Linked DNA regions of Homo sapiens. The protein of the gene in region 2 purifies or fractionates together with the protein of the main gene of each other region. This does not show direct contact. Each region holds a gene or a part of one and is shown on either strand. Other genes may lie near its edges. The genes, in order: TLR4 and ADIPOR1.

Evidence for each region.
Region 1: the proteins of ADIPOR1 (region 2) and TLR4 purify together in Homo sapiens (co-immunoprecipitation; one study listed by IntAct). This does not show direct contact.

The regions. Positions count from the first base shown.
Region 1 is NC_000009.12:117,717,675-117,721,498, reverse strand, and holds part of TLR4 (toll-like receptor 4 isoform A precursor), read right to left. Parts: 3' UTR 1-3,824.
Region 2 is NC_000001.11:202,941,174-202,944,997, forward strand, and holds part of ADIPOR1 (adiponectin receptor protein 1), read right to left. Parts: coding exon 3,810-3,824; intron 2,773-3,809; coding exon 2,585-2,772; intron 1,046-2,584; coding exon 852-1,045; intron 529-851; coding exon 400-528; 3' UTR 1-399. UniProt on the Homo sapiens protein: Receptor for ADIPOQ, an essential hormone secreted by adipocytes that regulates glucose and lipid metabolism. Required for normal glucose and fat homeostasis and for maintaining a normal body weight.

The DNA.
Region 1 (3,824 bases), on a different chromosome or scaffold from region 2:
CGTTGTATTGAAATAAAATCAGCTGTAGACTGCCTGGAATTCTTTGTCAAAATGAAGTTTGCAAAAAGAGGCTAGAAGAAGATAGAAAAGATGTAAGAGAGAGAGCAAGTGATTTGGAGACACAAGATCAAGGAACCGATCTTGGGATAGAAAATACTCTTCTCCAGTTCCATCCATGCTCTCACTTATGAGTGGAAACTAAATAATTTGTAGACATGGACATGGAGAATGAAATAACAGACATTGAGGACTCAGAAAGGTGGGAAGGGGTTAAGGGATGAGAAAGTACCTAATAGGTACAAAGTACACTGTTCAGTTGATGGTTACGCTAACAGCCCAGACTAAACCATTATGCAATATATTCATGTAACAAAACTGCATTTGCACTCTCTAAATCTATAAAAATTAAAATAAAATTTTCTAACCTTGAAGAGAGTCTTTGTTACCCATCTTAAAAAGAATGAAGTCAGAGTAGAGACATGAAGTTGTCTTTTTTTTAAATAGTTTTTTTAACTCTATATTTTTATATAGTGTCTCCTAGGGAATCCCACAAATAGAAAGAGTGTTTATTCCTTTCTGAGGAGGAGAACAGACCTCCCAGAGTCCAAAGGGAAAGACAAGGACAGTCCCAGGAAGAGGAAGGGTCATGCACTAGCATCTCACGGCCGAGCCCTAGGAAGACGGAGGGGCAAGGTCCTGGGGTGGCTGTGGATAGAGTCAGGCTGGGTTATTTCAGGTCAGTCCTGCCTTGCTTGGCCCATGGGAAATGGGGTGTTGTTAGTATGAGTCAAGAGCTCAAATTGGTAACTGGCTGGTTTTGATTTAATTACATAGTGAGATAGTTTCCTAGGAGCATACAACACAATCCTTTCTCCTAAACGTGAGTTTAATTTTCAACAAAACACTTCTCTCATAAACATCACGTCATTTCTAAACCTTTATTGCCATTCCCAGAACTGCTTGCAGCCTTTCAGAAACCCATTATTTTATAATTATAATCAAGACTATTAGGACAGGACAATTTGTGCCAAAAAGCGCATTTACACTCAGAATTGTCACTTAGCACTGTCACAGGAGGGATCATCTTTATTTCTGTAGAAATCAAGGAGAGTTGCAGACTCTGCCTTTTAAACTTTTAATTTCTAGATGGCATGGGAGTTACTGACCTTGTCTAAATTATTCTCCATTCACTCCACTAACCACCCCTGGCAGAGTAGCCCAGGACATCACAGCAAGCAATTATGTTATGGAAAGAATGCAGCCCCAAGAATCAGGCCAACCCAAGTTCATATCCTGATTCTGCTCCTTCCTATTGAACAATTCAGTCCTTTCATCTGTTTCTTCATCTGTGGAATGGCAAAGCTACAAATACCTGCATCAGAAGGTCATTTTAACAATTAAATGAAATAATATACAACTAAAACGGTGCCAGACATGCACCAAAAGCTTAGCAACTTAAAAAAAATACAGAAGGTGCGGCAAATGTTATTGTGATTAATATAAGCTGTGTGACCTAAGGCAAGTTACTCGTCCTCTCTGGGCATCTCTTTTCTCATTTCTAAAATGAGAAGAGTAGCCTTTAACTCACAAGGTAGCAGTAACGATCAGATGATCACGCATGGTGCTCAATATAGTTGGTTCCTTTTGATCGACCATTTACTCCACAGATTTTACTTTGAGTTGAAAAGTTCGGTGATCTCCATAAGGGCAGCCAGAGTGTGTGATCTTATTCCAACCATCTGGAAAGTCCTAAGCTTTTGGAACTTCCCCCATAACCTCTGTGTTTAATCACAAGTCTGTGATGCCCGTCAGGAAGTCAGACCAACTGTAGACATGATAGAGCAACCCTAGGCATGTTGTTCAAAGAAAGGCCATCATCTAGTGGGCCTGATTTGTTCACTGTTAAAAAATCTTTGATCACATAACTTAGATCACATTTTTCCTGGCTCTTACAGCTGTAATATAAATAAAAACAAGTAATAATAATAATACTTCTCTTTGTTTAATATCAGTCAAAATTATAATGGTGAGATAGGAAGTTTTATGCATTTTGTGAGAGCAGGGTGCTCTTGCCATAGAACAGTATTTAGAAGCCCTGCTTCTGCGGTGAAGTGGACTTAGATCCTAATCTCAGTGCTGCCACCAATGAGCAGGTGACAGTGGACACATGACAGAATGACTCCCAGACTCAGACTCCTCATTTGTAAATTGGAAATACTTTCGTATCTTTCTAATTCATTGATGTGACAAACTGAGATAGCACAAATAAAGCCCTTGCATAAAACAATTGATCAATTAAATGTAACTATTGTAACTATCAACATTATCATTTTAACCAAGTGAGGTCTGCCAACAAGGTATTATTACCTCCATTTCATGAATTAAGACCTGAGCCTCAAAGCACTTGAATGACTTGCCCACAATCACACAAGTAAATGGAGACACTGGCTTAGACTTTGGTTTTCACTCTCCCAGGGAGTTCACTGTCACATATTGTGTGAGTTCATTTAAGCTTCTCCAGGAGCCTGCTGATGATTTCTAAAAAGTTTATAGAGTCCAGAAGAAGACTGGGGTCTGACAATCCCGTGAGTAGAGAATGAATCAGAAAGAAATGTCTAATTTTAGTTACAGTCACTTCTGTGGTTCCACAGGCTGGAAAAATAGCAATTACTTTAGTGTTGTTACTGAGAAGACCTCCCAGTGCTTCTCCTAGTGCCCTCTTAATAAAGTCTTAGGGGAGTACTCACCCATAAGGACAGTGTCCCCGTATTGAACATAATACATGATTTTCAATCCTTAGAGCAACCTTACAAAGTCATAGTTCTATTCTTATTTTACATTGGAGCTAAGTAGACTCTCAGAGAAATGGAGCCCAAGGCACACAGTTGATAAGGAGTGAATTTGAGTTTTGGCTTTCTCCAAAAGCCACGCTACTCAAAACACCAGAAAAATGGAAAGCACTGTATTAACGCTCATTCTCGGTGTCTTTCTCTCCTCTTTTTATTCTATGTCCAGATTTTCTACTTATTATTGATTAACCCTATTGTTCACATATCCTTTGTTTGAAGCTCCTTCAAGTCCTTTATGGAAAGATAGGGTTATAAATAAATCATTTGGTATGTATAACATATATGCATATGTATTGGCTTAATGATTCATGGCTTCAACTGAGAAACCCTTGCTAGTGTCAACCACACAGAAAACTGCAGGAGTTTCACTTCCTGTTTTGCCAACTTTAAGCATGAAGCAATTGGGTGTGGAAGAAAGAAAGTGTCCTTGAGTGACCTGGAGGCCCAGGCTCAGGTTTTGTCACTTTCCTACTCTGTGGGCTATTGAAAAATTTACTTCATTGAACTTCAGCTTTCCCATCAATAAAATGGAAAAAGTTAATTATGATTTGCTACCTTACTCAGCTAATGAGATATTCAAATATATAGTTTTGTGAATATGTTTCAAGTTGTAAGGTATCACACAAATTTAAGGCATTACAATTGGCATTAATTTATCCTTATTCCACCCTTTATCCCTCTTAAATCCAGAGGATTTAAAGAGCTAAAAAGAGGCTGGCTGAGGCCTGACTTTACTCTTTCTTCTCCTTCTGTTCTATGCATATAATTTCTTTCCCTGCTTGTCCACCTCACCTGCCATTTCTAGAATTTCCATCTGGGAGAGGGAACTGATAGGAAGGAGGCCAATGTCAGCCTTGAATATTTCGGCCTTGAAATATTCCAAGTTGTATGTTGATCTTCCTTCTCAGAGCCTTGTACATTTGCTTGAATAAACACACTTATGCAGAATTCATATTCAAATATGAATAGAACCAC
Region 2 (3,824 bases):
ATACAAAGTTAAGGATGGGGGTAAGGGAGGGACATTTTCTTCCAGAAGAAAAGACAGAATTTCTGAAGAGTCCCAGTCCATAATTTTCCCAAAATGGTTGGAGGAGAGGGTAAAATCTCAACATGAGTTTCAAAGTACTGTCTCTGTGAGGGGCCGGTAGATGCCTTGCTGAGGAGGGGATGGCTAAGTTTGACCATGCCCCATCCCCAGCTAGGAGAATGGAAATGGAAAGTTTATTGCCCAGTGGGTGTGAAAGTGGGCTGAAGCTTGGTTGGTACTGAATTCTCTAAGAGGTTTCTTCTAGAAACAGACAACTCAGACTCTTCCTCTCACTTCAGCAAAGAAGTTATTTTTAAAAGCACTTGGGAAGTTCCTCCTCCACCCCGCAGGTGGGAAGGCTCAGAGAAGGGTGTCATCAGTACAGCCGCCTTCTAGGCCGTAACGGAATTCCTGAAGGTTGGAGACTCCATAGAAGTGGACAAAGGCTGCTGCCACCACCAGGACATGGAAAATCTGATGAGACTGGAACTGTAGGAATAAAAAGAAAAGAGCCTTTAGGATAATGCAAGGAGGAATAAGAAACAAGTAGGAGAAAGCATTTGCTTCTTCTAGTTTATCCTTAATTAAACAAATTTGTTAATAACATTAAAGTGGTATATTTAGAAAGTTTTAAAAACACAGTCCTTGTCAGAGATACACCAAAATGTTAATATTGATGATTTACCTTCAATGCACATATATGTACCTCCAAACACTATATGATCCCAGTCTCATACCACCTTTTCCTCAGCCCTTTAACTTTGGGCTGTTCACTCACCATCACAGGACCTGCTGGAAGATTCATTTCTTACCCATATGTCAAATTTTCCAGGAAAGAAGCGCTCAGGAATTCGAGCAGCATAAAGGCCAGCTCCAGTGATGTACATCACAGCCATGAGGAAGAACCAGCCCATCTGGCCCACTGTGGTGGCCTTGACAAAGCCCTCAGCGATAGTAAAGTGCATGGTGGGCACGACGCCACTCAAGCCAAGTCCCAGGAACACGCCTGAACAGAACAGACATAAGACTGTCAAACAAGGAAACAGCCACCGCATGGAAGGCACTGCTGTCTTACTCTGGAATTTCAATGTTTATGATAATTAGCTATTTTTGGATGAATAGTACATGTTTAGGAAACTTAGCTACAAGATGGATAACACTCAACAGATATTTCTTCTATGTCCTGAATGGGAAGAAGCTGTGTAAGTGCTTACTACCTTTTAAGCACCAAGAACAAAGATCTCATATTCTTCATTATCTGTTAAGGAATTTAGGTAAAAATGGTATGTCAAGACTCTCTGATGGCTAACTTGGGTACAGAACTTAGATGTCAAGGCTTCAGTTGCCTCCCAAGTCAGAGAAGCATAGGATAGGCTTCCTGTTAAGATCATAAAAGTCTTACATAACCAGAACTCTGACCTCCTGAGTAGACAGATATACCCAGATTAGCAGTTATCCTGTAGCTGCTGGGACACACAAGTAAGGCAAGAGCAAGGGAAGAATGGGTATGTGTCTCATCATTACACTACACATAACTGAAGGGCAGGGACCACCTCTCCATCTTTGTAAATACCTTTGTTTAAGCACAGTGCATGGCACGTGGCTGGTGCTTGATAAATATTTAATTATTATTATTTTTTTCTTTTCTTTCTTTCTTTCTTTTTTTTTTTTGAGATAGAGTCTTGCTTTGTTGCCCAGGCTGGAGTGCAGTGGCGTGATCTTGGCTCACTACAACCTCTGCCCCCGACCAGGTTCAAGTGATTCTCCCGCCTCAGCCTCTCAAGTAGCTGGAATTACAGGCACCTGCCACAACGCCGACTAATTTTTATATTTTAAATAAAAACAGGGTTTTACCATGTCGGCCAGGCTGGTCTCAAACTCCTGACTTCAAGTGATCCGCCTGCCTCGGCCCCCCAAAGTGCTGGGATTACAGGCGTGAGCCACTGCTCCCGGACAATATTTAATTATTTTAACTGAAGGTTAAAACATAGCAGATATTAATTGTAAAGGGACTAAAGACTAGTGGTAATTGGTGGTGTTGCTGCAAGTAATAAAAGCTTAAAATAAGAGTCCAGATGAGATGAGACAACACAAAGATGTTTATGCTTGTAGCTATTACTTTGTTACCTGTTTATGCTCAAGGTATTTTCATTCACCAAACCAGGTATTCCATTCCCTTAGTAAAATGCCTCTGAGTGTTTTAATTTTAATCCCTTGGTCTGAGCTTGGGACTCGGGTCACTAAAATTACTGTGCTTGCTACATTTTTAAACTGTCACAAACCAAGTATAAGAGTAGCTACATCTGTGCTTGCAGTTAATTGACCAGCTGGGTAATGATCTGTCCTATTGGCATTCTACTGAAATAGTATGACACTGGGGGTTGAGAACTGAGCTTTGAAATTGATGCTGTTTTGAAAGTTCTGAAACACAAATCAGGGTTTGGGTGGGGTTCTCAAGCTGCAAACCTTAAGGCTCAAATAGGTTTGAGCCTATCAGGCCTAAGGTCTAAATACCTCTGAGGTGTACGTACATCTTCCGACCTACCTGCTCTTGTCTGCCGGTGCTTAGGAGTGGCAAACCGGTCCCACTGCGCCACAATGATGGCAGAAATGCCCAGGACACAGACGATGGAGAGGTAGATGAGCCGTGGCTGTGGGGAGCAGTAGAAGGAATAATAGAGCCAGGGGACAAAGCTCCCCATAATTAGAAGAGCAATCCCTGAATAGTCCAGTCTAAAAAGAACCACAAAAATGAAACAAATCAGTGGGGGAAATGAATTTGTATGGCTCATTTAACTAGCTCTTTCTGTTCTCCACCTGCTCCCAGATTTAACCATTCCCTCAATCTATCCTGTATTGTAGACTCCCATACAATCTATCCTGTATTCTGGATTAAAATTCCACAAGGTCACTTCTATTTTACGATGGAAAAATCTCTAAGAATCCCCATTCAAAGAACTCTATCCCTTTCCCTTACTAGTGAACAGCCGTATCTCCCATAGTAGACACTTGAATTTAGAAATTCCATCACAATCCAGCTGGTTCCCAGCATCACACTCAGGAAAGGCTTTGAAAATTCTCCTATTCTGATAGAATGAGTTCTAAAAACAAAATTCTTAAATTGGGAGTAGTATTAAGGGATACTCTAGCTTTTTCTATCTTAGTTGACTTTTTAAATGAGGAAAATGTACCTTCTTACTGGTGTTGTTAGAAAAAACAAAATAATACACCACTGTCGCCACCAAAACCAACAATAACAACAAAAACAAGCAAACAAATAGAACCTCAGGCTCACGGCTGGGCAAGAGAGAAAGCACACGATGATGGACATCTGGAGCTTCCAGCAATGCATGGGCAGCAAAGATAAGCTTTACTTGACTGCTGGGTAGGAGCACCAGCAGAATGAAGCATAGACTATTTACCACACCCTACTTTGGCTTGGGCTAATAGTAAGTTACGCTTGTACAAGGTCTTGGAAAGCAGCCAGTGCACTGGCACTCTAAGCCTCACAAAAGATAGTGCTTTTCAGGTAGAAAATATATTCCACAATTGGTCTCTCCATCTGTTGAAGAGGATGCAGTAAGTCTGTTCATGAAGTGTTTAAGAGAAAAGCTTCATCACCCCACTATCGCCACAGAACAGAGAGCCTTTCCTCTGGCATATCAAGAAACCTTTAGGAGTGATATGAGCTCCTATCACCCAGTAAGCACTGGGATCTCAAGATGTGACAACAGTGCACAGTATTTTCCTATGGTGTTCTTTTAACTCACTTGGAAAAAGTCCGA